Linked DNA regions of Homo sapiens. The protein of the gene in region 2 binds, or shares a complex with, the protein of the main gene of each other region. Links are inferred from orthologs where the notes say so. Each region holds a gene or a part of one and is shown on either strand. Other genes may lie near its edges. The genes, in order: CPLX1, VAMP2, NAPA and SNAP25.

What was found.
Region 1: the proteins of VAMP2 (region 2) and CPLX1 are in contact, whole or in part, in a crystal structure (PDB 1KIL), measured with the Rattus norvegicus proteins. The link is inferred for Homo sapiens from one-to-one orthologs. Residues at the interface, in NP_036795.1 of Rattus norvegicus: Arg47, Val50, Asp51, Leu54, Asp57, Gln58, Ser61, Asp64, Asp65, Asp68, Ala69, Gln76; in NP_074055.1 of Rattus norvegicus: Leu41, Arg48, Tyr52, Glu56, Arg59, Glu60, Met62, Arg63, Ile66, Arg67, Tyr70, Gly71, Ile72.
Region 3: the proteins of VAMP2 (region 2) and NAPA are in contact, whole or in part, in a cryo-EM structure (PDB 3J97), measured with the Rattus norvegicus proteins. The link is inferred for Homo sapiens from one-to-one orthologs. Residues at the interface, in NP_036795.1 of Rattus norvegicus: Gln36, Ala37, Asp40, Glu41, Val43, Arg47, Val50, Asp51, Leu54, Glu55, Gln58, Lys59, Arg66; in NP_542152.1 of Rattus norvegicus: Arg116, Thr118, Lys122, Ser157, Ser159, Ser160, Lys163, Leu197, Tyr200, Ser201, Lys203, Arg239, Ser268, Ile269, Arg271.
Region 4: the proteins of VAMP2 (region 2) and SNAP25 are in contact, whole or in part, in a crystal structure (PDB 1SFC), measured with the Rattus norvegicus proteins. The link is inferred for Homo sapiens from one-to-one orthologs. Residues at the interface, in NP_036795.1 of Rattus norvegicus: Asn25, Thr27, Ser28, Asn29, Arg30, Arg31, Leu32, Thr35, Gln38, Val39, Glu41, Val42, Ile45, Met46, Asn49, Lys52, Val53, Glu55, Arg56, Lys59, Leu60, Glu62, Leu63, Arg66, Ala69, Leu70, Gly73, Ala74, Gln76, Phe77; in NP_112253.1 of Rattus norvegicus: Gly131, Gly132, Phe133, Ile134, Arg135, Arg136, Asn139, Leu150, Glu151, Ser154, Ile157, Gly158, Leu160, Arg161, Ala164, Leu165, Met167, Gly168, Ile171, Asp172, Gln174, Asn175, Ile178, Asp179, Ile181, Met182, Ala185, Asp186, Asn188, Lys189.

What each region holds. Positions count from the first base shown.
Region 1 is NC_000004.12:823,113-830,353, forward strand, and holds the start of CPLX1 (complexin-1), read right to left. Parts: upstream 3,018-7,241; 5' UTR 2,934-3,017; intron 1,490-2,933; 5' UTR 1,411-1,489; coding exon 1,380-1,410; intron 1-1,379. UniProt on the Homo sapiens protein: Positively regulates a late step in exocytosis of various cytoplasmic vesicles, such as synaptic vesicles and other secretory vesicles.
Region 2 is NC_000017.11:8,159,942-8,167,714, forward strand, and holds the start of VAMP2 (vesicle-associated membrane protein 2), read right to left. Parts: upstream 3,008-7,773; 5' UTR 2,939-3,007; coding exon 2,937-2,938; intron 2,936-2,936; exon of another isoform or gene 2,511-2,935; coding exon of another isoform or gene 2,503-2,510; intron 2,429-2,502; coding exon 2,308-2,428; intron 1,826-2,307; coding exon 1,667-1,825; intron 1,584-1,666; coding exon 1,532-1,583; intron 931-1,531; coding exon 914-930; 3' UTR 1-913. UniProt on the Homo sapiens protein: Involved in the targeting and/or fusion of transport vesicles to their target membrane. Major SNARE protein of synaptic vesicles which mediates fusion of synaptic vesicles to release neurotransmitters.
Region 3 is NC_000019.10:47,512,054-47,518,905, forward strand, and holds the start of NAPA (alpha-soluble NSF attachment protein), read right to left. Parts: upstream 3,011-6,852; 5' UTR 2,888-3,010; coding exon 2,790-2,887; intron 731-2,789; exon of another isoform or gene 660-730; intron 1-659. UniProt on the Homo sapiens protein: Required for vesicular transport between the endoplasmic reticulum and the Golgi apparatus. Together with GNA12 promotes CDH5 localization to plasma membrane.
Region 4 is NC_000020.11:10,214,719-10,221,830, forward strand, and holds the start of SNAP25 (synaptosomal-associated protein 25), read left to right. Parts: upstream 1-4,111; 5' UTR 4,112-4,259; exon of another isoform or gene 4,260-4,495; intron 4,496-4,518; exon of another isoform or gene 4,519-4,788; intron 4,789-7,112.

The DNA.
Region 1 (7,241 bases), on a different chromosome or scaffold from region 2:
CTCAGGGCCTGAATTAGCCAACTAATTAATTATCCGTAACAGCCTGGGACTCCCTGGGTGGAACGTGCGTCCCTCCCAGCGCAGATGCAGGCTTGTCCCTGAATCACAGCCCGGTGACGCAGCCATTATAATTAGACTCAACCTGACTCTTACCCTTGACCACGAAATCTCAGGGATGTGGCCCCAGGACAGGCTCAATATCTTTTCATTTAATTTGTGTTGAGTGGAAGCACAGCCACCCTCCGGGAGACAGCCAGGCAGGCAGCTCCTGCCCTGGGGGAAGCGGCGCCTGCCCTCTGTACACCCTTGTCCCTGGCCCCTCGAACCCGGCCAGCTCCCCCACTGCAGAAATGCTCCCAGGAGGCCTGACTCACTCCAAGGTGTGAATGGCATCAGGTGAGGGTGCTCCCCCGTGGAGGCCACCCAAGCAAGACGTCTCTAGTGGTAGAATCGGGCACCGGCCACAGGTTCCCCTCACAGGAGTTCTGGGCACTGGTGCTGGGGGAACACAGGATGGACGGCTCTGGGCAAAACTGAGACTCGCCACGACAGCCCCGAGGCCTGAGTTGACCCATCAGCTCTGCCGGGACACGTCTGTACCAGCATGGCCCAGGCCCTGCCCACCTCCTGGTCTAGGAACCCAGCCACTGCTCTTGACATGGTCTCTGGCCACAATGACAGCCTTGGGTCAAGTGGGGACGAGGTTCCTTTCAAATAGCAGACAGCAGGTTGGAAGGGGGCCTGGCCCCACCCCAGTACACACAAAAAAGGCTGCACGTCCCGCCTGGGAGGCAGTCGAGACACACAAGCTGTTTCGGGCCTTTTCCTTCGCTCCCGTAACCAGCAAGCCCTGGTCCCTGAGGATGGCGCTGCCTCACCCAAGTGAAACCCACAGGGTCCTCGCCAGATGCACAGGCCAGCTCTGTCCCCACGCCTGTCCCTGAGGCTGCCACCTGCATCCTGCTCTCCCACCGCTTGGCTCTCCTCATCTGGAAGGAAGCCCCCTTGGGGGCTGCCCAGCCTGGCCAGTTAGAATTGGCCCTGTAAAGCCTACGCCAGAGTGTGCACCCTCCCCCAGGACGTGCATCAGCATGGTCCATGGGCTCTGCCCCGACCACAGCAGTGGGGCAGAGTGAGCTTACAGGGCAGCCCCTGTCCCGCCAGGAACACCAGTTCTGGCTCGGGGCCTCGAAAAGGGCCGGGCTGGGGGCGCTGCTGGGCACGGTCCTTGCTCCTCTGCCCCAGGCTCCTGTGCAGGGCTGCGTGGGTGGCCGTGTGGCTGCAGGGGCGCTGCTGCGGTGGGCCAGATGAGGAGCAGCTGCTGTGGTGGTCTCTCCATGTCCCCTCAGCCCCTCCCCACCCCACCTCCCGCTTCCTACCTCCTAGAGCCTGCTTCATCACAAACTCCATGGCGATTGCTCTGCTTCCACAGTGGCTCCTCCAGGGGTCAGAACTCACACGCAAGTATGGCCGGGAGCGAGTGTTCTTCCTGGGGGAGAGTGAAGTGGTCACAGGTCACCCTAAGCAGGCCCCTGCCTGGCCTTCCCCAGAGACCATCATTCCTTACCCGCAATACCTTGTGGGCTGGACCCTCCCCCACCTGGAGCGGCTGCCTGGGAAGTCCTTCGTGAGGGGCTTCTGTCCCCACACCCAAACCAGGACCCCAGAGGACCTGAAAATGGTCTCCCCAGCTCCTGGGGTGTCTGAAGCCTCTGCAGGGAGGGCTGCTGATGGCTTAGGGGGCATCGCTCAGAGGCGCCTGGCGCCAGGCTGCGGAAGCAGGGGCGGGGCCCAGGGGGCGTTTGAAGGTGACTGCTCCGCTCTGCAGCTCAGTGTCTGGAGCGGCGCCTCCGCGGTGGTCCCGAGCCCAGGGCCGTGGAGAAGGGTTGGGGGTGGGTCTTTGAGCGGGTACCCTTCAGGGCGGGCTCCTGTGGCTTCTGACCAGGGAGGCTTGGGTGACCCTATCCCTGACGGCACTGCAGTCAGTGTGCCCCCCACATGGCCCGCGTAGAAGAGATCGGGGTTGGGGAGAAACTTCAGGGGGCTCAGCCTTCAGGAAACACGTGGGGACGGGGACAGAGCACCCCCGCCCCGGGGGCGTGCATGGGGTGGGGTGGGGCGCTCTGGTCCCCTCTTGGGAAGCCGCTTTCTGAAATCACAGCAGCCGCAGTGAGCCCCCCGGTTTTGCGGGGTCTCTCCTATCGGGGAACCCCAGGTCCCTGGAGAGACACTGTTTGACGGTTCACCCCTCGCCCTCCGCAGAGGAAGGAGACTCGCGCGGGGACTGGGAGGGCGGCGGGCGGGGAGCGCCCCTCGGAGGCTTTGCCGCAGCGCCGATTCTCCTCCAAACTTCTCCCCTGGCTCCCGCGGCGCGGGGAAGGAGGGCACGGCCGGGCCCCGCAGACCCGCAGGGCTCCGGCCCCGCCGCACCCGCACCCCTCGGCTTTGCGGGCGGGCGAGCGGCCCTCAGGCGGGAGCGCGCCAGGAGAGGAAAGAAAGAGGGCGAGGGAGGAGAGGGGGAGCCTCGAGACAGGAAGAAGCGAGGAGGAGGCCGGGCGCGGGCCGGGACCGCGGGGGCCGCTTCAGCACCGCGGCAGTGGACAGCGCCCGCCCCGGACCCCGCGCGCGCGGAGCCCGGGAGAGAAACGGGGGCTGCGGGGAGAAGCCGGGGTCGGGGGGAGAAACGGGGGCCGGAGGGAGAGGCCGGAGCCGGGGGGAGAAGCCGGAGCCGGGGAGGAGAGACCCGGGGAGCGGAGGCCGGGGGGAGGAGCTGGGCGAAGCCGGGGCCGCGGGGAGAAGGGGGGCCGGGAAGGAGAAACCGGGGCCGGCGGGAGAAGCGGGGAGAAGCGGGGGCCGGGGAGGAGACGCCGGGGCCGGGAGGGGAGACCCGGGGAGCGGAGGCCGGGCGCGCGCTGCGCTCGGGGCGCGGTTACCTTCCCGGGGCGCGGGCGGTCAGCGGCGGGGCGCGCTCGGGCCGGCTGGGTCCATGTGGCGCCCGGTGAGCTGCGGCGGCGGCTGAAGGGCACCGCGAGGAGGGCGCGTCACTCGCAGGCGCTCCCCGCCCCCCGCCCGCGTCCGAGCGTGACGAGCACGGGGAGGGGAGCGCCGAGGGGCGGGGCCGCGGGCGCCGGGCGGGGGCGGGGGTGGACCCGGGGGCGGGGGCGGAGGCGGACCCGGGGGCGGGGGGCGGGGGGTGGACCCGGGGCGGGGGCGGGGGGTGGACCCGGGGGCGGGGGCGGGGGGCGGGGGCGGGGGGCGGACCCGGGGCGGGGGCGGGGGGTGGACCCGGGGCGGGGGCGGGGGTGGACCCGGGGGCGGGGGCGGGGGGCGGGGGCGGGGGCGGGGGGTGGACCCGGGGCGGGGGCGGGGGTGGACCCGGGGGCGGGGGCGGGGGTGGACCCGAGTGACGCGCCCCCGCCTCCCTCCAACCCGGCCCGGGCTCGACCTTCCCCCGGCGGGCGCCTGCGACCCCCGCCCGCCCCTGATCTGGGCGCCCCCGGCTCTGCCCCCCCGCCCCCAGCCCGACGGTGCGGGCCTGCTCCCTACAGGGTCCGCGCGGGGCCGGTGGGTGCAAAACCCTCGGGCGGAGAAGTCGCTGCCTCCCGAGCGGAGGGGCCAGGGGTTGGGAGTCGCTGCCGCCCCCATTCTCCGGTGACCGTGTCCCTGAGCGCCGCCCGCCGCCCCGACCCCTCTGCCCCGACCTCCCCGTATCGCAGGGCGGGAGAAGGGGGCCCCCAGACCCCTGAAAACCCACGCAAGCCCCTCGCAGCCAGAGACCCGCAGGCCGGCCCGGGCTCACTTTCGGTGTAACGGAGTCGCTGTTTCCTTTACCGGGACGAAGGCCAGAGACCCCACCGCTCCCTCCCCTGGCCCCCGGGATTTCCTCTGCAGCGGACGCGGCACTGCGGGAGAGCGGGGTCGCCGCAAGGTCGGCCCTGCGGTTCGCGCTGTGCAGTGTCGGGAGCCAGGCGGCGGGAGGGATGGGGCGCACCGCGACCCTAGAGCTGCCCTGTGCTCCTGGCGGGGTGGGGGTGGGGAGGGGGGAGGGGGGCCGCTGCCGGTGGCCGCCGCACTAACTTGTCACTGTCCCCTCCCTGCTGAGTCCTGGGGACTCCCCTGGCGCAGGGAAGATGCGGCCCCTCCCCCGCCCTCAGCCCCATCCCCTCCGGTGCCCCGTGTTTAGCCTGAGCTCAGGAGGACTCAGAGGCCTGGACTCCCAGCCTTGGCCCCAGCGCCTCTGCCCCCGTCCCCACTCTTCTGCTGACTTGGCAGGGGACCCTTCGCAGAGGAAGGGAGCGCTGGGGGAGAGGGAAGGGTGAAGGCACCAGGGCCAAGCCCATGGGGGCTCCCTGAGACAGCCATGAGGGTCCCGTGGGCCTGGGGGTTCACAGGCAACCTCCCAGAGGGGGACCCATGCCCTAGGATTGGGGTCTCTTCAGCCTCCCTGGCTGGAAGCCATGGGCACCCCCAGCACCGTCCCTTCCTCTCTCCCGGGATCTGAGCCAAGTGGGCTCAGAACGTTGGGCCCAGGGACAGGAGGCAGGACACATGCCTGGGGGCCCGGCCTGAGCCCCAGCCTGCTCTGCTCCATCTGCTCCTCTAGTCTCCTCAGGACCTGGGAGGGGACAGCAAGGGTGAGATGTTCGGGTCCAAGAAAGAGGTCACTTCTCGGCCCTGGTGCTTTCTCTCTCCATCCCTAACTGGGTGGATAACCCAACAGCTAACCCGGACAGTAACCCCAGAGAGGACCCCAGGGGTGACCCCCTGAGCCCAGAGCCAGGCTCATGACTGACCCTGCCACCTCCACAAGCTGCATGCAAGGGATATGCTGGTGCCTTTGGGACAGTCTGCACAGGAGTGCAGGGAGGTGCCCGTTCTTCCGAGCAGAAGCACTGGACTCCTAGGCTGACCCCTCCCCGTTCTACAACCCAGGCCAGCCTGAGCTCCAAGCACACCTGGAGCTGGGGCCTGGGGCACAGAGGACAGAGACCCTCTGCCAGCCCTCACGTTCTGCCCTGTCTTCCTCTGCCTCTCTCTCTGTCTCTTTCTCCGTCGCTGTATCTCTCTGTCACTGTGTCTTTCTGCCCGTCTCTCTGTCTCTATCTTTCTGTCTCTGTCTTTCTCTGTCACTGTATCTGTCTCTGTGTCTTTTTGTCTCTCTGTCTCTTTCTATCTCTGTCTCTGTCTTTCTGTCTTTTCTTTCTCTGTCGCTGTATCTCTCTGTCTCTGTGTCTGTCTCTGTCTCTCTGTGTCCGTCTCTCTCTGTCTCTGCCTGTCCCTGTTGTTACTTGTTACATCCAGCCACACATGCAGTGACTGCTTCTCAGCTCTCACACTTGTCTAGGCCCTAACCTGGGGGTGGGGGGGCCCAGCCACAACTTGGGGGAAATAGACAAGGTTGGTGACAGCCCCAGGTCAGAGTGACAAGTGGCCTAGGGAAGGGAAAGTGGGCATCTGCTGGAGGAGTTGAGGGTGGTGCCCACTCAGGGTGTGTGAGCTGGGCCAGGGGAAGGGAAAGTGGGCATCTGCTGGAGGGCTTCAGGGTGGTGCCCACTCAGGGTGTGTGAGCCAGGCCAGGGCTGCCCAGCTGGGATGGGAGTCACAGGCTGCTGGCCAGGAGCCACCCAGGCTCCGTTCCAGTGGCAGAAGGTGGTGACGCGGCAAAAGGCCTCTGCCAACCCCCACGGGCCACTTGGCCACACCAGGGCAGGTGCGGTTGGCCCTTCGAGTGCCCAGAGGAGGCCCTGAGCCCTGGAGAAGAAGCCCCGCAGACCTCCAGCCGGCTGGAAAGGGGCAGGAGCTGAGTGAGAAAGGGGCCAGCAGGTTGAAGGCCAGGTTGAAGATCCAGGCAGGGAAAACATTTTGCAGGCCGGGGAAGAGTTGGAGGCCACCCCGTCCAGGCGGATGTTGGGAGAAGGAGGAGGTGGGGTGTGGAGCAAGTCCGGGAGGAGCAGGATGGAGCTCCAACGAGGGCTCCCCCAGAGGTCAGCTTGGAGAAGTGTGAGTGCTTGGCTGGGCCGAGCCCTGGCTGTGGGGCCTGTGCCAGCCGGTTGGACATGGATGGTACCCCCGGCCCAGCCAGCCCTCTGCTCCTCAGATGCTCCATCCCCAGCCCCAGTGAGGCCAGGGACCCCAGGAGCACAAAGCAGGACTGTGTGAGGACCATGTGGCACTGGGTTTGAGACCCTGCGGGGTCACTCCAGACAGCAGGGAAAGGAGGCAGCTGCCCTGCTGCAACCTCCAGCTCTAGCCTCTCTGGAAGCCCCTGCCAAGGCCTCCACTGCCACCCTGCTCCCATCTTCTGGGTCCCATCTGCCCATAGCCCTCCTGGGTGCCAGGCATCCTCCTTGCCTTGGGCCAGGAAAGGGTCTGGGAAGCACTGTCAGGGTTTCCTGGGGTTGGCCTTCAGTCCTGGCGTGGGGTGTGGCCAGGGGGCCATGTCCCCCATGGGCCCAGCAGGAGGGCAGCGCTCTGCCACACCGCATGTGTGGATCCGGCCCACAGCACCCACCCAGAACCTTCAAACACAAACTTAATAGTTACATGTGCTGAGTGATTCAGTCTGAGTGCCGACACCATCCACGCTGTCATTTTCCTGCTGGATTTTGATATTCCAAAAGTAACAACACGTGAAAAGCGTGAGCAAAGCAAGATGTAGACCCTTGCCGTTTGCCAGAGCTGGGGCAGGACCTGGGCTGAGTGGAGGGTGTCCTCGCCTGGGAAGCGCCCTGAACCCGTTCCCCTCCTCCACTGGGTGAGAGAGGTCCAGCATCTAGCCGGGGGAAGCCAGCGCCTGGGAGGTCAGCCTAGTGGGCCCCTGGGAGCAGAGCAGAGGTACTGCCGCAGCTGAGCGAATGCTTGTGCCCCAGGCCCTGCCCTGGGGTCCTGGGATCCACGGCTGCCCGGTCACACGGTGCCCAGATCTCATGGTGCCCCAGGGCACACATGGGGCCCGCTCTGAGCTGATCTCTTGCGGCCCAGCATGGTCCCAACCATGCAGTCAGCAGCACCAGGTAGCCGGGTCAGCGGCACTCACCCCTGGCTGGAGGGAGCCTCTGAGCTGGGCAAGGCCAGGTCCCGGGCAGCCCACCCGCCAGGCCAGGGCCCTCCAGCTTCAGGGGGAGCCACCGGCTCCAGCCCTGCGCTGAGTGTGGGGTGTGGATCTGGCCTCCTTCAGCCGGGGACCCTGATCCACCAGGGACCCAGGGCAACAAAAGAGCCGCCCGTGGGGAGTGGGCTTG
Region 2 (7,773 bases):
CCATCATAACATACTGAACTTCAAGACACTTACATACCAGCTGGGGGAGGGAGAGGAGGGTACAAGAGGTTTGGAAAATGAGGGTAAGGGAGGCAAACTGGACTAGAGGGGCTAGGAGGAGGCAATGCTGGGGACCAGAGCAGCCTGGTTCCCCAAAAGCCCAGGCTCCCCACCACCTGCGAGTAATGTCGTGCAAATGAAAATGTGATACAAGAACTAATGGGGACTAACTCCTCAGTAAAAAAAGAAACACAGGTTGAGAGAAGAGTGATGGAACAAAAAGAAATGGAAAGGGATAGCAGTATGTAATGATACGCTAATTAACATGCTGGACGCTCCCAAAGACCTTGGGATTCTTAGGACCAAGTGGGGCCAGTCTCAGAGCCTCCCAATGGATACAAAGAAGATGTACCTAAGGAAGCCTGGACAGGTGCTGTTGTTTTTTTTTTTTTTTTTTTTTTTTTGAGGGCGGGGCAGAGGGAGCATGACGGGGAGAGTGAGGAGGAAAGAGGAAAGGAAGGCCAGGGTGGGAGGAAGGATCAGCTAAATCTGAGGGAAGAAGAAGGAAAGGAGAGGGACTATTGCATAGCAGATGCAAATGAAGGGACTTGGGGCTAGTCAGGAAGAAAGGGAAAGGGAAGGAAGGCAAGAGAGAGGGGTGAAGGGAACCTCAGGAAGGGGTGTTAAGGACAACCGGAAAAATCATCTAGTAATAAAACTACAAACAGACCAAATATATATAATATTATATATGTATAAATAACAGCTGGCTATTTACAGGGGGACACACACACGGACACACACACACACGGATCCAGGGGAGTGGGGGCTGAAAGATATGGCTGAGAGGTGGAGGAACGGCTGAGGGTTGGGGGAGAGGCCCTTCTCTAGGCAGGGCAGACTCCTCGGGGATTTAAGTGCTGAAGTAAACTGTGGAGAGAGGGGAAGAAGATGAGGAAGAGGGAGAGGGGAGAGAAAGAGAGAGAACAAGAAAGCAGTGTGTCAGGCCTGGCCCTGCTCCAATCCTCCCCACTCCCCAGCTGGCTGACACCCTCTCTTGGACTCAGTTTTTCCATCTACAAAGCAAGGGGCTAGACAGGTAGGTTCTGAGGTCCCTTCCGCTCCATGGTATGGCCTTGAAGCCACAGACCCTAATCCTCTGAGCCTCTGAGACCGCAAGCTCTCAAATAATGGGGTGGTTGGCTTCCTGGTCATGTCTCAAGCCCCTGGTCCTTTCCTTTCTCCCACTCCTCAATTCCAGGGTTCTCAGACTGGGCTCTTAGGCCTAAAGGGTCCTCAATGGATACACCAGCTTTCCTATTTCCAAATGTTAACAAGACTGCCAAGAACTAGGCAAAATGCAGGCTAAATAACATCAAAGTTTTTGGCTCTAGATGAATCAGAATTGCCATTAGCAGCTATATGTGTTTTTGGCTGAAGAGTAAAAACTAGATTAATGACCTTCAAAACCTAGAATCCACTGGGGAAACCTCTCCAGGGAAAGGGCCCCGGCCATTCTCACCCTACTCACCTATGATGATGATGAGGATGATGGCGCAAATCACTCCCAAGATGATCATCATCTGGGGGTGAGAGGCGAGGATCAGTAAGACAAACTATGATACCCCATTCACCCACCTGTCCTCCTTCCTGTCCCCACCCTTACCTTGAGGTTTTTCCACCAGTATTTGCGCTTGAGCTTGGCTGCGCTTGTTTCAAACTGGGAGGCCCCCGCCTGGAGTGCATCTGCACGGTCGTCCAGCTCCGACAGCTTCTGGTCTCGCTCCAGGACCTTGTCCACGTTCACCCTCATGATGTCCACCACCTGGGAGAAGGGCCCACGAGGCAGGGGGGTGTGCCAAGGCCCACCTCAGTGAGGGCAATCCTCAAACATGTGCCCACCGTGCCACACATGGAACATGCACCCTGATACTGCCAGGTTAACATGCCAAGGACACACAGAACATGCCTAGCACACCTGGGGACATGCAAGGAGCACACATCAGGGGCATGCTGGTGACATCTCAGATGTCATAGCAACACCCTCCCTCTATGGAACCTCAGGCGCTCTGTCCATCACCAGAGCACACCTGCCCAGGCTGGCACACCCCAGGCTAGCAAAGCTGATTAACACCCCCAGCGCCCTTCCAAGTGCGTGCTGACAGGGAGACAGGGATGGGGCATGGTATCTTTGTCCGCAAACCCACAGGCGTGAACTGTCATCACTCCCAAACCAACATGGGCCCCTACACCTATACGCCAACCCCCAGGGTCCCTCCTACTGCTTTTGACTCCCCCCACACTCACCTCATCCACCTGGGCCTGGGTCTGCTGCAGTCTCCTGTTACTGGTGAGGTTTGGAGGGGGTGCAGGGGGACCACCCTCCCCAGCCGGGGCAGCAGGGGGGGCCGTGGCAGCGGTAGCAGACCTGAGGAGCAGGGACGGATTAAGACCCAGGGCCTGCAGCCTCCCGGCCCCGCAGCCAGGGCTCCGCCCATCCACCTGTCCATCCTCGTCCCTCCAGTCCTCCTTTTCGGGAGGAAGGCCACCCGATGTAAGCCCTGGTCTCGGTCCAGCCCTGCCGCCGATGAGCTGCGTGACCTTGAGCGAGGCCCCCCCGGCCTCAGTTTCCCCGCCTGTCAACTGAGGGCGACCTCACAGATGCGATCCGGGTCGACCCGAAAAGACAGGCGGCCGCGGTGACAGGGGCGGGGAGGGGCAGGAGGACACTGGGTCCGCTCCTTCCCGCGGCCATCGCCCGAGCCGGCCAGCCCGGGACGCGGGGCTCCTCGGCCGCCCGCGCGCAGTCACCGGCTTGGGCCTGGCCCCGGGGCGCGGGGAACGCAGGAGAGACCCCGGGCACTCCCGACGGCCGGTTGCCAAGGGCGGCGGCCGGCGCAGGGAAGCGCGGTGAGGGTGGCGGGCGGCCGACTCACATGGCGGGGGCAGCGGGTGGAGGACTTGGCAGCGGCAGTGATGGCGGCGGCGGCTCGCGCTGGCTCCGACTGGCGCTGGCTGCCCGGGACGGAAAGATGGCGGCCGCGCGTCACCCGCATCCGGGCACTGCGGGCGGGGGCGGGGCGCCGCGGGAGACGCGTCGCGAGCGGGGCCGCGGGGGCGGGGCGCTGCGGGGCGCTGCGGGGCGGGGGTCGTGCCGGGCAGGACCACGGGCCCCGCGCCACCATGCCCCGGCAGCTCCCTCGGCACTCGCGGGACCCCAAGGCGGGCTGCTGCGGCTTCCCCAAACCCACCGCCACCCCACCCTGTCTGACCACAGCCCCCCCAAACCGCCTGCCGCCTGCCCCTTAGAGCACAACGCAGCCTGGCCCTACACCTAACCCCCAGACCACTCCCTCAATCGTGAACCCAGTAAACCAGCCTGCACCCCACACAGCCCAAGGTCTTGCCCCGCGCCCAGGTCCCAGCACCTAGCGACCCGCCTTCAGCACTTGGAATGGGCTGGAGTTGGGAAATCAGAGAGGGCCAGTGCAGGTGCTGGGGCAGTATCGAGAGCGGGGACCTTACTGCTAGGGTGGAGAGGAGTGGGGGAGATTGGTCCCAACCCATCACCGCTGGTGGATGTCTCAGAGGAAGCCTGGGGTCCCTGGCCACTGGGTAGGAGGGTAGGAAGAAAAGATGAGGCAGGCTCTTCCCGCCCAAACAAGTCCAGGGGGCGGAGGACGGGGGAGTGTCTACAGGGTGTGGGGAGGGGGCTGCCCCGCCTCACGATTAAGGTTCAGACTAGGGGTACTTAACCGCTGGAGCAGGCCCGACTGAGGTGGGGTGAGCTGAGGACCCCGAGGAGGAGGGCACAAGGCTGCCGGGGGTGATGGGGGCAGGGGCTGCTTCACGTGGTGGCTGCTGACTGGCCAAGACCTAGCTTTGCCCCAGGCTTAGGTCAGCGACCCGACTGCAGGAAAGGGCTCAGGCTTTGGTCCCAGGCACAGGGCCTGGGCCAAAAAAAAAAAAAAAGCCTTTTTTCTTTTTCTCTCATTTTTTTTTCTTTAGTAGTAGGCACAGTGGGCACAGGTTACAAGGTGCTGCTTTACATGCGTATTCGCCTCGCAGGTGTGACCTTGGACCGTTGCCCTCCTCTCTCTGGACCCCAAATACATTGCATATGTAGGTACTAAATCCATATTTGTTAAATGGCTTGATGTGGATAACATAGGAGATTATCCCTGGCTGGTCTCCATTAGGCCCTCTAAGCACACCCAGCAGCTGTATACACTCCCACCCAGCTTGTCAGAGAAGATGGGACCAGGGGAGCTGTCGCTCTGGTGGAGTGCAGGGGGTCAAAGCAAGCCTCAAGGGTGCAGGAGGCATTTTAGGCGAGGCCCTTTGGCCCTGGGGTGGGGGTGCTTACTACATCCCTGGAAGGTGCAGGGAGGCTGATGGCCTTGATCTCTAAGACAAACAGGAACCAGCTTCCTCCCTCCCCCACCCTGGCTTCCCAGGGCCTCCGGGTGTGAGATCCTCCCCCACTGCAGTGCCCCACCCGCTCCCCACAGAAGCCCGGAGAGTGGCTCTGTCACCAGAGGTGTCATTTCCCAGCTGTCTGTGGGAGGTGAGTGAGCAGGGAATGTGTGTGCTGGGTGTGGGAACTCAGCCCAATCTAAGAGAAGATACTCTTGGCTTCCTCCCCCTCAGAGGAGCAGCCGCGTCCCTGGTCCTTGTGCACTGACAGTCCCGGGTGGCTCAGCCTATGTGATGAGAAAGAAAAGAGCAGCTTCCACGGGGGTCTCAGATCATGCTGTGAGATGCTGGCTCCTGCTTTTTGGTCTTCAAATGATTCCTCTTTCTAGTCAGAGAACAAAGATGCCAAATTCCAGCCTTTTAAGTTCAAAACCCTCAGTGTCTGTCAGGGTATAAATAAGACATGGAGGATTGGAAGAGGCAGGCACAGGAAGCCCTTCCGCCCCCAGTTGGACACCCTGCACTAACTGAGGGGAGCCTAGTGCAGAGCCAGACAAGACATTTGATGCTGGTTTGGGGGTGATGTGGAAGGGACAGAGCCCCAGATACACGGTCAAGGCCAGGGGTCGTGCTATTGCTATTGGATCGTGGGGACGGCAGCAGCAGAGTAGAAATGAGGGCATGTGTGACCCACGGAGATGAAGGGCCCAGGAGGATTCATCTCAGAAAGAGGACTCTCATCCAGCAGCCCCTTCCCACCCCACCCCACCTAGGCTGTGGCTCAGAGGAACTCCCCAAATTTAGATCAATGGTGGAGGTGGGAGAAGGAGTGGGATGACGGAGTTCACCTGGAAGTGACTGAGAGAATGTTTTCTGCAGGCAGGTAGAATGGAGACCCAAATAGAGGTAAGTTGAACAATAGAAAAATAATGTATTTGCATAACTCAGATTTGGCTTCTACATGTACTGGCTTCGGGAATTGGCCAATGATTTTCTAGGGCACACCCCCAAGACTCATTCAAAGGATGTAGGACTCAAGGTGATGGTGATGTAGGCAACAGAGACCACACTTTCTTTTTCTTTTTTTTTTCTTTTTTTTTCTTTTTTGAGACAGAGTCTCTGTCTGTCACCCAGGCTGGAGTGCAATGGCGCGATCTCTGCTCACTGCAAACTCCGCCTCCCAGGTTCACGCCATTCTCCTCCCTCAGCCTCCCGAGTAGCTGGGACTACAGGCGCCCACCACCCGGCCCGGCTAATTTTTTGTATTTTTAGTAGAGACAGGGTTTCACCGTGTTAGCCAGGGTGGTCTTGATCTCCTGACCCCGTGATCCGCCCGCCTTGGCCTTCCGAAGTGCTGAGATTACAGGCTTGAGCCACCGCGCCTGGCCGAGACCACACTTTCATAAACGCTTTCTTTTATTTTTTATTTTTATTATTATTTATTTATTTATATTTAAGATGGAGTTTCGCTCTTCTTGCCCAGGCTGGAGTGCAATGGTGCGATCTCGGCTCACTGCAACCTCCACCTCCCGGGTTCAAGTGATTCTCCTGCCTCAGACTCCCAAGTGGCTGGGATTACAGGAGTGCACCACCACGCCCGGCTAATCGTTTTGTACTTTTAGTAGAGACGGGATTTCACCATGTTGGCCAGGCTGGTCTCGAACTCCTGACCTCAGGTGACCCACCCACCGTGGCCTCCCAAAGTGCTGGGATTACAGGCGTGAGCCACCATGCCCGGCCTTATTTCGTAATTTTTTTTTCTCTTCAGACAATTACTGGTTTAGAAGTCGGCCGGGGCTGCAGTGCAGTGGCGTGATCTCGGCTCACTGCAACCTCTGCCTCCTGGGTTCAAGAGATTCTCCTGCCTCAGGCTCCCGAGTCCCTGGGATTACAGGCGTCCGCCACCATGCCTGGCTAATTTTTCTATTTTTAGTAAAGACAGGGTTGCGCCATGTTGGCCAGGCTGGTCTCAAACTCCTGACTTCAGGTGATCTGCCCACTTTGGCCTCCCGAAGTTCTGGGATTACAGGTGTGAGCCACTGTGCCCGGCCTTTTTAATTATTTTTTTTGAGGCAGTCTCCCTCTGTCACCCAAGCTGGAGTGCAGTGGCACAAGCTTGGCTCACTACAACCTCTGCTAATTTTTCTGTTTTTAGTAGAGACAGGGTTACGCCATGTTGGCCAGGCTGGTCTCAAACTCCTGACTTCAGGTGATCTGCCGACCTTGGCCTCCTGAAGTGTTGGGATTACAGGCGTGAGCCAATGCACCCGGTCAAGAAGGTGTCTCTTTTTGTATTAAAGCATAATGTAAACACATAAAGTGGTATCTTTTTAATATGTGAAGTTCTCTCTGAACAAGTACCAAGCACAGTGCCAGGAACGAGGCAGGCAAATGAATAATAAACTATGGTGAGTGCATAGCAGGCAGACAGACTGCTAACGGGAAGGATGTGTTTGGGCAGGACCTTTGTGCCCAGTATTCTGTAAGGACAGTCCTAGTTGGGCTGGCGAAGCACTGATCACTTTTTACTGGTTCGACCAGGGAACCAGCCAGCAGAGCAGGCCCAGGCCCCTGGCCACTGGGAAGCAGGGCAGTGTGGGTGGTGGGGGTGCCACATGCCAGAGCCCTGTATGGGTGGGAGAAGACATAGGCAGATCAGAATCTCCTGGGATTGGGTGCGTGAAAGGACTCCTGGTTCCGGTCCCTCACTCTCCAACCCTCCATTCATTAGAGATTCACTGGGTTTAACAAGCTCCTGTTGTTTTGAAAGGGGGAGGAATTCTCCTCTAGATAGAGAGGTTGTCAAGAACCCACATCTTCCTTTTTATTTATTTATTTAATTATTTTTGAGACGGAGTCTCACTGTCCCCCAGGCTGGAGTGCAGTGGTGCCATCTTCTGCCTCCTGGGTTCAAACAATTCTCCTGCCTCAGCCTCCTGAGTAGCTGGGATTACAGGCGCCTGCCATTAAGCCCAGCTGATTTTTGTATTTTTAGTAGAGACAGGGTTTCACCATGTTGGGCAGGCTGGTCTCGGACTCCTGACCTCAGGTGATCCACCTGCCTCGGCCTCCCAAAGTGCTGGGATTACAGGCATGAGCCACGGCACCTGGTTGACATCTTATTACCTTCCATATTACATGCCAAGCCCAGAGCCTGGCAGGTAGCAGGTGTTCAATAAACATTTGTTTAATTGAGTCAACTGATTTGGCCTAACAGCCAGGAGACTTGGGTTCTAGTCCCAGCTTTCCCACTCTGCATGGTGTCCTGGAGCAAATGCCTTTCTCCTGGGGCCTCATTTTTCTCATTTGTTAAGTGAGGGCTCTCTCATTCTACAATGCCAGGCATTGTGCTGGTAT
Region 3 (6,852 bases), on a different chromosome or scaffold from region 2:
GGAACTCCCTGTGTTCCATCTTCCTAAGGCATGCTCCATAATAATCCTTGCCTGGAGTGCTGCTCCCTGCCAGAGAGCACCCCAGAACTCATGTTCATCCCCCCAGGGTTGGGGCCTCTCCCCCAGGAAGCCATTTCTGATCCCTCTGGATCTCAGTTCCCTGTCTTTCCAGGCAGAACCTCCCGTCACGGTAGATCTCTGTTGCACCATCCCTGCTGCCTAGAGCACCCTCCCCGGCCCCACTCCCCAGCAAGTCCTGGGATTCCTTGGGGCCCAGCTCACTCCTCACCAAGAGCCTCCCCCTGGTTCACGCTGCTTCCTCTGAGCTCAGACAGTCACAGGAATGACATCATCGAGCCCCTCCTTACAGTAGGTAATTCCACTTTATTGGTGTTTGCTGTTCATCCTGCCTTCCCAATCAGGTAGCAAATGCCTTGGGGCTGACTTAGCTGCTCCCTCCAAGCACACAGTCCAACAGCCCACTAATCCCTGGGCCAAAGGGACCAGACACCCAGAGCCACCCAGGAAAACTATCACCAAAAACCCAGCTCGTGGCCCCACCCCCAAACACAGCACTTGAACTTCTCCCCTTGTGAAGAAAAAGAAACACACACACACCCTCTCTCTCCTCGCAGCCTCTAAAATAAAACATTTTTCACCTAATCAATCCAGTCCATCAGCCCCGGATGTTTCTCCACACCAGGCAATTCGCCATCATGTTCTTCAAGTTATTTTGCTAAACATTATCCAACCTCAAACAAGGGGCGTGGCCTAGAGCCCTTTTCCTGTTCCTTCCTCTCTTGTAAAGATCCCTCTCCTTCGTGTCTTACCAGCCTCTGCCAGGCTCCTACCACAGTCTCTTCCCATCCCCAGGCCCTCCTCCCAAACCCCCTTCTCCAGCCTTCTGCAGATGTTCCCAGTCCCACCACCGTCCCCAGGCTCTGCTTCTGAGTGGCCACCACACACTGTTCTCTCTACAAGCCCACTAGTCCTTTCCCAGGTCTCCTCTCAGTTTCCACAACCTCCCCTTGACCCTTTCGGGTCGTCCCATCAGCACAGATCCCACCACCTCCCACACCACCGCCCCCTGCCAAACTCCCTTCTCCTTCCTCTGCCCAGAGCCTCATGCTCCTCTCAACCCTACTAAGTCTTCGTGGATCCCTTTTCTGTTCCCTTTCAGCTCCTCTTAGCACACTCATGTTTCTCAGTCTCTCCCTCTCCTGACCCCTCCCAGACCTCTCCGCTCGGGCGTCCACCTTGAACCCCCATCAGCTCTCTGCACGCTCCGAACCTGTTTCCTTCTGGAAGTCACATTAACAACAGCTAACACTCTCAGAGATGTAACTCCACGCCAGGCTCAATTCTAACACTCATAGCAAATGGGAGGTAGGTTTGATTTGTGATCTCCTTTAGCAGGGAGACTAAACAATTTACCCAAAGTCATGAAGTAAGTGGCAGAGCTACTTGGGCTCTTGGCACTTCTAAGCCACTACAATTTATCACAGGATGGTCGTGTCAGCTTTTAGGAGCTAACGTGAGTTTTATGCCACGTCATATGTGTTAGTTCTGTCTCCCAGGCCTTTTCCCATCCCTCTTCTCAGCATGTCTCTGTCATCCCTATTACTCGAGGATCACACAGCAGGAATTTGATCCCCCGTTTTGGTTCTCTCAGTCCCCCTGTCTCTCCCTGTTATCCCTCCATCTCCTTGGCCAAGCCACCACCACGCATTCCCCCACCCAGGAGTCTCCAGCCTCAACCCAGGCCTCCTCAGGCTTTTTTCTTTCTTTCTTTCTTTTTTTTTTTTTTTTTTTTTGAGACAGAGTCTCGCTCTGTCCCCCAGGCTGTAGTGCAGTGGCTCGATCTCGGCTCACTGCAACCTCTACCTCCGGGTTCAAGTGATTCTCCTGCCCCAGCCTCCCGAGTAGCTGGGATTACAGGTACCCGCCACCAGGCCCAGATAACTTTTGTATTTTTAGTAGAGACGGGGTTTCACCATGTTGTCCAGGCTGGTCTCGAACTCCCCGCCTCAGATAATCTGCCCACCTCGGCCTCCCAAAGTGCTGAGACCTCCACAGTCTTGACTCCATCATCCCGGGTTCCTCCGTTCAGCTGTCCTTAAACTAGTCACTGCTAACCAGGGCCGTACTCACCCCATGCACCCCCCACACTTCAGACGCGGCTCACCGCTCCTAGGATCATCTAGCCCTGAGCCCCTCTGCCTGGTGTCAGCCCCCTTCAGCCTTCACCCTCACCGCCCAGGGCCCACGCAAATCCACTGCTCCAGGGGTTGAAAAGGTCAGTCCCTCGGGCAGGCGTCCTCAGCCCCAGGCCCCATCACTGCCGCCTGAGAGCCTTCAAACAGACTCCCCTAGAGCTCCGAAAAGCCTCTGGACCTGGCTTCTCTCCCGGACTCCCTCCGTCCCCCCAGGCCGGTCCCCTCCAAGGCTTCAGGACGTACTCCCTCGGTCCAGGTTCTCCCCCGCCCGCTGGCCTGTCTTCGGCCTGGGTCCCCTTCCTCGCCTCAAGATAGTGTCGCCTCGGTCCGTGTGTCCTCAGCCCAAATCCCTTCCGCCATGTCAGACCGTCTCTCCTCAAACCGTGTTGCCCCGGCCCAGGCTCTTGGCCCTCAGCCTGCGTCCCCTCTGCCGCCTCAGGCCATGTCACCTTATTGCAGGTTCCTCTCCGTCCCCTCGGCCCGAGCTCTGCGTGCCCTAACCCGCCACCTCCGAGCGTGACTCCTTCGTCCTCTCAGCCTAGGTCCCGGCCGACCCCTCAGCCCGGTTCTCACCCAAAGAGGCCAGAGAAGAAGGACTGCGAGTTCTTCACTTTGCGCTCCGCCTCGGCCAACAGCGCCATCGCCTCCGCTTCCTTCCCGGAATTGTCCATGGCGGCCACAAAGGGACTCAGCAAAGCGCCTGACCCTGACCCTGGGAAGACTCAGCCGCGGCCGGGCCGCGGAACACAGATCGGTAAAACTCGCCCGGCTGCGTTGACGTCGCACCGGCGCGCGTCGCTTGCGGCCAGGAACCACGTGACTAGCGCTGGCCAACCAGCGGCCTCGTAACGCCGCGCCCGCTCCGCCGGACACGCCCCCACCAGCCGCCGCACGCCGCCCGTGACTCGTGACCCCCCAATCGGCGTCAAGAGACCTCAACGCATGCGCACATACCGGCGAACGGCGCTCCACTCTCTCCCCAGCGCTCTGTACCTCACCTCCCACGTGACCCTGTGGAAGGCAATGGCAGTACCCCCCGCCGAGGCCCCGCCCCACGGTGTTGCTGCTGGATCCTCCTCCACCAATCAGCAGGAGCCCTCGGCTCGCGCTGGGGCGGGGGGTCCCCCACTCGCCCTCCCCGCGGAACTCTGGCACAGTCAGCTGACCGCAGACACTCACGTGACAGCTCGGGGCCCACGCCCGGGTTTGACAGTTCTGCGCAGAACTTAGTCCCGCCCCCGCGGCTGGTCTCGCCGGTTTCTTCACTTGGAAAGGCGTTTGTGGGAAAAGGAAACCGTTCTGCTTTTTCTTGCTCCCTCTGTCGGCCAGTACTAGAACTGCTTTGGGGAGACCGGTGAAGAGAGACTGCAAACAAAAACTTAAGAGGTTCTCTAACTCTGGTTTCATAAAAAATAGCTGAAGAGGGCCGGGCACGGTGGCTTACGCCTGTAATCCCAGCACTTTGGGAGGCCGAGGCGGGCGGATCACTTGAGGTCATGAGTTTGAGACCAGCCCGGCCAACATGGCGAAACCCCGCTCTACTAAAATACAAATATTAACCGGGTGTGGTGGCACACTCCTGTAATCCCAGCTACTGAGGAGGCTGAGAGAGGAGAATCGCTTGAACCGGGGAGGTGGAGGTTGCAACGGGCCGAGATCGTGCCACTGCACTCCAGCCTGGGCGACAGAGTGAGACTTAGTCTCAGAAAAAAAAAAAAAATAGCTGAAGAGAGCGTGTTAAAAAAAAATTCAGATTCGAAGATGGGCGCGGTGTCTCGTGCCTATAATCCCAGCTACTCGGGAGGCGAGAGGATCGCTTGGGCCCAGGAGTTTGAGTCTAGTTCAAGTCCCGCCTTGGGCAACATAGCAAGACTCTGTCTCTAAAAAAAAAAGTTTAGGCTCAAACACACCTCCTGCTGTCCCAGAAAATTGAGTTGCTGGTTTCTGAGACAGGGTCTCACTCTTTGGGTTGTTGGTTTTGGAGACAGGGTCTCGGTCTGTCGCCCAGGCTGGAGTGCAGCAGCACAATCATAGCTCACCTCAGTATAACTTTGTAGTGCCAGAAAGGAAGGAAGTATTCCACACGTGTGCTCACACACAAAATTAGGGGGTATGCCAAAGGAGCCAACTGAAAGAACTCCCAATGGCCAAAGCTGGAACAATTTGAGCATCAAAATAAAGTAGTATTGGATTATAATCCCAAACATAAAGTATCCATGAGCCTATGGTCATATAGATGAATATAGAACAAATAAATAAAGGGGGGAGAATAGACAAATAGTTTGTGCAGAAGAATTCCAAATAATCTGCGTAGATACTCTGCTCTCAAGAAGGTGAAGGATACCTCCCCATTCTGTAAGTATGGACTGTGCATAGTGACTTCCTTTCAAAGAAGAGGGTACAAGAAAGGGGAGAAAAAGCCTAAATTTACAGTGGAGAAACCTGACATTGACATCTAGGTGATTGAGGTTAACCTCAACATTGATAAGTCATGTGATTAAAATGGCTCTTTACTTCTGGGATCTTTCAATCTAATCATGAAAAAAACACTAGACAAATTCCAGTTGAGCCACATCCTCCAAAATACTTGCCCAGTACTCCTCAACACTGTTGGTGGGTGCAGTGTGTCACATCTGTAGTCCTGGTACTTTGGGAGGCCAAGGCAGGAGGATCACTTGAGGCCAGGAGTTTGAGACCAGCCTGTCCAACATGGGGAAACCCCGTCGCTACTGAAAATACAAAAAACTTAGCCCGGTGAGGTGGTGCATGCCTGTAATCACAGCTACTTGGGAGGCTGAGGCAGGAGGATCACTTGTACCCTGGAGGTGGAGGTTGCAGTGAGCGGAGATTGCCTCACTGCACTCCAGCCTGGGGGACAAGAGGGAGACTCCGTCTCAAACAAATAACACTGTCAAGTCATCAAAACAAGGAAAGCCTGAGAAACCATCACAGCCAAGGAGACGTGACTGCTAAATGTAATGTCTTACCTTCGGTGGGATCCTGGAACAGAAGGGCATTGAGTTAAAAAACCAAGGAAATTGGCCGGGTGCGGTGGCTCATACCTGTAATCCCACCACTTTGAGAGGCTGAGGCGGGTGGATCACCTGAGGTCAGGAGTTCCAGACCAGCCTGGCTAACATGGAGAAACACTGTCTCTACTAAAAATACAAACATTAGCTGGGCCTGGTGGAGGGCGCCTATAGTCCCAGCTACTCAGGAAGCTGAAGCAGAATTGCTTGAACCCAGGAGGTGGAGGTTGTGGTGAGCCGAGATTGTGCCACTGTGCTACAGCCTGGGTGACAGAGTGAGACTCCATCTCAAAACAAACAAAAACACTAAGGAAATCTAAATAAACTATGAAGTTTAGTTAATAATATTGTGCCATACTGGTTCATACGTGGTAATAAATGTACCATTCTAATATAAGATGTTAATCATAGGGGAAACTGGGGTATGTGGGAATTTTTTTTTGCTGTCATTGCAGTTTTTCTACAAATCTAAAACTATCCTAAAAATCTTCTTTAAATAAAACAGTTTCCAAGGCCGTACCCACAATGGTTCCAATTCTGAGTCTGTGGTGGGTCACAGGAATCTGCATTTTTAAAAAACAGAACCCTATATAATTAGGATGCAGCCAGACCTGGTGGTTCATGCCTGTAATCCCAACACTCTGGGAGACCAAGGCGGGAGGACCGCTTGAGCCTAGGAGTTAAGGACCAACCTAGGCAAAAAGCAAGATCCTATCTCCACAAAATTAAAAAAATTTTAATTACTCCTTGGGAGGCTGAGGTGGGAGGATTGTTTGACCCCAGGAGTTTGAGGCTGCAGTGAGCTATGACTGTGCCACTGCACTCCAACCGGGACAACAGAGTGAGACCCTGTCTCATCTCAAAAAAAAAAAAAAGTAAAATTAGGATGCAGATAATCCCGGGACCACAGTTTGAGAAACCGCTATTATCTAGGGGGTTGGCTGAGCCGAGCAAGGCATAAGAAGCCTTCCCCCAACTCTCTTCATACATGAATAGACTTGCCTGGACCACCTACTTGTGGTTGCCACTGTGTCCTGACCACAGAGCAGGTGGGGGTGAGCCTGGATTACCACAAGCGGTTTTGGTTCCATGTCTGTCAAAGCAACACTATGTAAAAGCTTCTGTTTAAGCTGTTCCATTTCAGGGTAATTTGTCATGCAGCAACAGATAATATAACCCCTCAGCCTTTTCAACCAGGGAATTTTTTTCCATTTCCAGAGTTCATTGGATTTATTTAGGATGGGATCCAAACAATATTAGCAATCACATGAGAGCTTGTTAACTAGTAGCCATTCAGTTCTTATGGTGCACCCTCCCAAGTGCTTAATTTACATTTTATTTCTATTTATTTATTTATTTTGACATGGAGTCTTGCTCTGTTGCCCAGGCTGGAGTGCAGTGGCACGATCTCTGCTCACTGCAACCTCTGCCTCTGGATTCAAGCAATTCTTGTGCCTTAGCCACCCAAGTAGCTGGGATTACAGTCATGTACCACCACACCTGGCTAATTTTGTATTTTATATTTTTAGTAGAGATGGGGTTTCACCATGTTGGCCAGGCTGGTCTCGAGCTCCTGACCTCAAGTGATCCGCCCACCTTGGACTTCC
Region 4 (7,112 bases), on a different chromosome or scaffold from region 2:
GTAAATGAATAAGTTCATATAGATGAAAAAAACAAGGCCCAGTATGATTGATACATATCTAATTAATAGCTAATGAAAAAAATGGCAATCCTCCATATTAAAGCCAAGCTACATGTCATTTCTTAGAGAAATAAAGTTAAAGTCTCATCAAAATGATAGATTTTATTTAGCCAATACTTCATAGTGCTAGACATGACACTCAGTGCTTCATAATTTCCTTGTGTATTTGCTATAATTATTGTCTCCATTTTACCTATGAGATAATTGAGATACAAAGAGGTTACAGAACTAATATGATTCCTAAAAGATTTACTCAAGGAATACTGTGATCCCTAACAAATAGCCTTTTTGAAGTGTACTAATTTGGACTACCATTTTCTCTGCCTCTCTGTTCCTAATTGTCACAGGTTCTTCCTCCCTACTGGACCACAGGCGTGTCTCAGCATTGGGAAGGGTCCTAGGATGCATTGTAAAAGAAAGTCTGTAATTTTGGTGCATCAAGGAACAAAAGTGTGGAAACATCCAGCCTGTGGCTGCTGGACACTCCCCTTCTTCCTTCTCACCATACTGTCTGTAATAAAGAATAAAGTGTTATTTAATATTCTGAGTGTACAGTCCTATTTTTTCTTAACCTGGCAAACCAGAAACAGCAACTAATATTCCTGGTTCTCTTTTTACCTTTCACAAGATCTATATCTACCTTAGAGGCTTCAGGGAACAAGAACAGCCTGGATAGTTTAAACCTAGAGTTAAACTACTCGAGGCATTTTAAGGTACCGCTACTTCACTATATATAAATGGGGTGGGGGGCTGGATTAAGGGCTAGAAGAATATATGAAGAGAAAGTGGCAAGCAAACCACTTGGAAAGCAAACCAAGGAATCAAAACAGTTGCTCTATCAAACTGAATATTCTTGCGCAGAACTGAATATTCTTTGCCCTCACAGTGTTTTGAAACATTGTCATAGGGTGCCAGGCATGTCCCAAAGGAGGACCCTGGAGAGAGGGCTTCTGAGCTGGGCTATCTCTAAACTGCTTCCAAGTTGACTTTGGAAAGATCACATGGGATTTTAGAAAAGTTATTATTATTATGACTTATAAAATTGTAGTTATTGAGTCAACTATGAATCTTGCACCTTACCTTGGAGATACAAGCTAAATACCTTGGACCTAGAGCTACTGCAAACCAGAATACTTTGGGGCATAATGTACCAAAAAAGCTTTCAGAGGCTTGAATTATCACAGTGTAAATATCCATCTAGCAGAGCAGGTAATTTTCTCGTTACTCATCCTAAGCATTAGATACTCTGTGTGTTAGTTCTTTGCAGAAATAACCCATAGCAGCTGAACCATTTTGGAACAAATTTTCCATCACCTTCCTTCCCTGTGTGGTTCAGGCCTTTGCAAACCCTGAGTATCATGAATCTGCTGGTTCTCTACTGGCAAAGATGATGACGTTTTCTTGTTTGTTTTTGTTTTGCTTTAATCATGCCGTGAGAAAATCCTAAGGGAAAAAAATCTCATTATCCTATTCAAAATACATTTAGGGTTATCTGGTCATCCCTAGCAGATTTTTATGTACCCAATGTTTATGTATCTCAAATTACACTCTGTTACCTTTCCCAGAGCAAGATGAAGAACCTCTAAGAACCTCTCAAACAGCATCATTTTCACAACAAGCACTAGCAATGGAAAACATTGTCACCACCACCAGCTAATCTTGTAGGGTCCATGGTATTTTCTGTAATGCCTTGAAACAGTCTGCCTCTCTCTTCTTGTCTGTCATTTTTATAGATGTCAGTGTGGGGCATCAGCAGTTGAAAACTCAGAATACCAAGCCAGTCCTTCCCTGTGACTGCTACATAGCTTTTGCCTGCAGGATAAGCCTCCATCACTGACGTAGTTGCTTTTTAACTTCTTTTTTTTTTTTAACTTGGAAAATCCCCCACCTCCTCCATTCCTTCACAAAACTTTCTGCCTGAATGATTTCTAGTCTGAGGGCCATACACACATTTTTTTTTCTCCCTCTGCAGGTTTTTTTTTCTCTTCAAACTTCCGCATGCTGCCTTTTTTTAAAGTGTCACACTTTGGAAAAAATTCTGACTACAAAGGATTTTGCAGTACATTGCATTCAAACCCCTTTCCCCCTATTCCAACTTGCTTTATAATGAAAGTAAGAGCCATACTCAAGAGACTTTTATTGGCAATTAAGTATCTAAGGACTTTGCAGATTTTCTTCTTTATTGTATGGCAATCTTAAATGTTTAATGAATATTTAAGTAAACAAATTTCAGCAACATGCCTTTTTTAGGAATTTGGCTTTAATTAACATCCAAACACTGTTAATTATTATGGCAAAAACATCAATACGTCAAAAAAAAGCCTTCAGGCCAGGGAATCTTTAAGAAACAATTATGTCTACTAATTTCGATTAAAGGTATCCTTTATTAAATTCTTAACAACCCGTCTCTTTCTAAACGCAGCGCCTTCACAACTCTTCTTCCCTTCCCCCTACCCCGCTTCCCTCCCTCCGCAATGGAGCGCAATCAAAGGCCGTATTATTGCCTAAGCTTGGCTCTCAGGCCAGCTAGGGATGTGTGTGTGTGTGTGTGTGTGTGTGTGTGTGTGTGTGTGGTGGGGCGGGGGTGGGGGGCGAGGGTGCAAGGGGAGAGGTTGTACGCCGCTTTTCCGAACCCAGCTCTAAATGGTTTCTCCTAAGCGAGACAAGGATTTTCCATAGCCTAAAAGAGGCCATCAAGTTTTAACATTGCGAGGCACGACTTCTAATCGCATCCTTCCCGGAAAAGTACAAACAGTTCCTCAGACGAGGTCCCCCACCTCCCACGCGCTCCCCAGCCCTCCCTCCCTGCGGAGAGCCCCGCGACAGCCTCCCCAACACCTGTGAATCATCCGGGAGGCTGCCACCGCCGAGCGATCCGCGCACCACCCCCTTCCCGGGCCCGGGCACGGCCAGGGAGGACAGTTAGGGTTGTTGCTTTATAATTATCACTTTTAATCTCTAATACGACCAGCACAAGTAGCCTTTGTCTCCCCGCCCTGATTTGAGCATCCGAGGGCCCCCCGAGGCAGCCTGCACGGGTACCCCGGGGTTTGCGCACTGAGTGAACCCCCAGATTCGGCCGTGTCCCAGCCGTCCTTGCTCTGAATCCCCCACCTCCTCCCGGCCGTTTGGACGGTTCCCTCGGGGCGTCTGTGCCTCCGTGGGGTACCCCTAAGACACCCAGCATGAAACCCCAGCACCGACTGCAAATTCCACCGAAAGCAGAGTCATCCGTTTTTGCCCTCGGCAAACAACTCAACTTCAAGCCTCGAGTCCTTGCAAACCCACGCTGGCTGGGCTAACTCCGCTTCCCTTCTCCTTCCCCCGACTCCTGCAACAGCTCAGAGAGCCTGGCTCTGACGTAGTTCAAAATAACGTGCGCCAGCCTCGCTGCCCGGCTGACCACAGCAACGAGAGCCACAAGCCCTCGACGCTGCTTCGATAACATGAAGCAATCACTCATAAAAATAGCAACCCACGTAGCCTGGCCATATATGGAGCTGGCGAGGGTGGACGGGGATGCCCCTACGGACCCTCTTCGGAGAAAACAAATCGCCGCTGAAATTTCCCCCACCCCTCCCATCACTACCTTTTACCCCTCCTCTGCCTTCCCCTCTCCTTAGATGACTCAACCACAGATTCCACTGAAAGGGGGTGGGGGTGGGGGTGGGGGGGAATATATACACATACACACAAATTATACATATATTATACATGTATTATAAAATATACACACACATACATATATACATACACACACATATACACATATGTACACACACACGCACACACACCAAAGAACATCAGGAATGCAGTTGCGGGATGAACGCGTTTGCCCAAGACCGAGTGTTAAAATGGAGTCATAAGAGTCGCCCCGTGCGGGTGTTTATAGAAGGTGAAAACACGCAGGTTTGCAGGCCAGCGCACTGGGAACCGAGTCAAGCGCGCCGCAGCCCGGGCCCCGCCCCCGCCCCCGCCGTGCCCCGCCCCCACTTCCTCCCGCCCCTCGCTGGGCGGCTATTAAAAGCTGCTGACGTCAAAACGGACGGCCATCTTTGATGAGGGCAGAGCTCACGTTGCATTGAAGACGAAACCTCGGGGAGGTCAGGCGCTGTCTTTCCTTCCCTCCCTGCTCGGCGGCTCCACCACAGTTGCAACCTGCAGAGGCCCGGAGAACACAACCCTCCCGAGAAGCCCAGGTAAGAACCCCCCTCCCCAGGTCGTGGCTCTGGCTCGGGATGGCTGCATACCCAGAAGGGACAGCAGCTGGGCAGTCCGAGTGGGCTTGGGTAAATACAAGTATTGGTGCACTTAGGGTGCGGTATTCCGTGTGTGCACGTCTGGTGGGGGCTTTATAAAGTGTTTTCGAGGTGAGCTGCTGGGGAAAAGGGAAACGGGAGCCCTGCAAATGGAGCGACGGGGAGGAAGAGCGAGGGTACGTACCGAATAATAACTTACTCTTTTGAAACAGTAGTGGGACCCCCTCTTTCTTCCATTTTGCGATGCAGTTTTCAGAGATATTTAGGCTGTTGAGTTTTCCTCCCCTGTCGTTCTAACCCTATTATTATGACTGTTGTCGTTAGGGTGCTATTATCCAGGGAAGAATTAAGGGGGAGACAGGGTGTGGGTGCTGGGGAGGCGAAAGGAGAAAGGGGGAGTTCCCGCCCCGGGCAAGCTGAGCTGCTGCAGCGACAGCAGCCTCCATGCCCCGCGGACTTGATTTATGCCGCCTGCTCCACGTCAACTGCAGGCTGGCGGGAGGCGGGCGGGTCGTGCCGGGTGGGAGGGCTCTGCGGAGGGCTGGCGCGGGTGGGCTGGCTTCGGGGACTGCGGCGGCCCGCGCTCAGCACCCTGGATAGCAACACCGAGGGCTCGCGCGGGCGCCCTCGACCTTTCAGCACCGGGGACAGCGGTCCGGCCGCAGCGCCTCATCTGCCTGCGGCAGAAATGCCTGGCCGGGGCTGGATGTGCCAGGGCTGGAGACCAAATTGTCTCCCTGAGACCCCGGTCTTACGGAGACCCTTAATAGAGGAGTCATAGTAGCTTAAAAGAAAACAAGAAAGAAATAAATCTTCCTCACAGAGACTCCTTTGCAGACAATTTCCTGTTCCCCTCCTCACCTCCTGCATAGCTTCAACAAAATAGTCTACTTGTGGAAATCTTCTGTGTTGCCCTCTGACCCTTATTTTACGTAGAAAATAAATACATTTTTTAAAAAATATGGATTTATCCTCCAGCAGGGTATCAAGGTTTTTGTTTGGTTTTGTTTTTTAACACAGAGTAGATCTGTCTACAGATCTTGGGTGAGCATAAGTACTGTATATATGAAGAAGCCAATGCTATCTGTTTATAGGGATGATACATCTCTCTCTATGTTTCCATTTGATAAAAATGTGAGATTAGCTGAACTAAGCAGAATCAACTTTAAGAATGAATCACTCTTCCTTTTCCTTCTTCCCCCATCCTTGCAATCAGGCATGAATACAAGCATTCATCCACAAAAACACATATCTGAGAAATTTTACTGGTCCTGTACTGAATAGATTTAACCTCTTTGGCCACGGTTTCAGAGTTACTGGAAGTATTTGCTATCAGCACTGGTTATCGCAGGCTGATAGCTTTAGATTTTGACAATATTAAGACTGGCCTTCCTCAGGAGAATCCAAGTGTGTCCTTCAGGGTAATGCAGGTAAAGAACCATGGTGTTAAACTAGAACTTAACTCTGACCTAAAGGTCTACTGCAATTTCTCTTATGGCACTGCGGGATTTTGCTGAGGTGGTAATAACTACTTTAACCATTTTCTACTCTGAGGCTTGGAGCATCTGAGAGAGCAAAAGTCATCAGGGGTATTTCTCTCTGTTTGATGTAGATAAAACTGGCATAAAAATGACCAGAGTCAAAATTATGCCATTTGAGTCATTAGCAAAAAAGAGTAACAGCGTCATATGTAATAATCTATACAATGCATTAAAGAAACGCTATCATGATCCCCTTAAAAGACCCCAAATGAGAACTTGGATTGTGTTTAGATAGTCATACCTCCTATCATCTGTATGCTACAGACACTAAAATTCCCTGTCCATATACAGAAGGTAATTTCATTCGCTGCTATTTAATTATTTCCTAGTGTTTTTTCTTTTTATAGATGACCATGTGTTTCCATGTATGTATATGTTGATCTGTTATTTTGCATGGATGTAAAATTATTTGGGTGGACATTTATATATGAGTATGTAAACGTATAAAAGAAGTTTATAACTTTGCAATCTGCAGACAAAAATAAACAACTGTGTTTTAGTAGTGGAGGAGAGAAAATATGGGCAGGAATCTTTAAAAATGCTTTAACTTCATGCTGCATGTCCAGACAGCTGTCTGCGTAGTTGCGTCAAATGAAAAGCCTAATGCTGCCGGAATTACGTGCTTGGACATTAGTAATTACTGCTGGGTTTGTTTGCTAGTGGAAGACTGGGGAGGAGCGGGGGAAGTAGAGGACCGCAGTGAAGATGGCAAAGGGCACAGAGCTGAGAGGAAGAAGCAATGTGCACAATTAGAAAGCTAATTTTAGAATAGCTTACTGAGAAATTTAAAAAATATATCATTGAACCATGAATTTAACATTTATATCATTGACAAGCTTCCAGGGAAAAAAAATCGAGAAATTTCCCATTTTAAGTTAGAATTTTTAAAATCCAGGGCAATGCGGTGAGAAGAGGCAGGAGCAGATGGACATAGGATGAGCCAGGAGTCATTCACACAGACCCTCTGATGCCTGTTTGTTCATCGGCATTTACTGCATTACCACCTCAGTGTTCAAATTACAGAACAATTTACAATCCTCTTAACCTCTTCATGGCAAAATCTCCCAAGAATTCACAATTTTATTTTTACTTTGTTAAACACGCACAACCACACATGCACAAACACAATGCAAACTACCCGTTAATTAGCTTGTCTAAAGATATTCCCAAGCTCTAAATGTTAACCCTTGAGTGAGGGTTATCAGCTGAAAGACATGTTTCTGCCAGTGACACCTAGAAGCTGCGTAAGCAG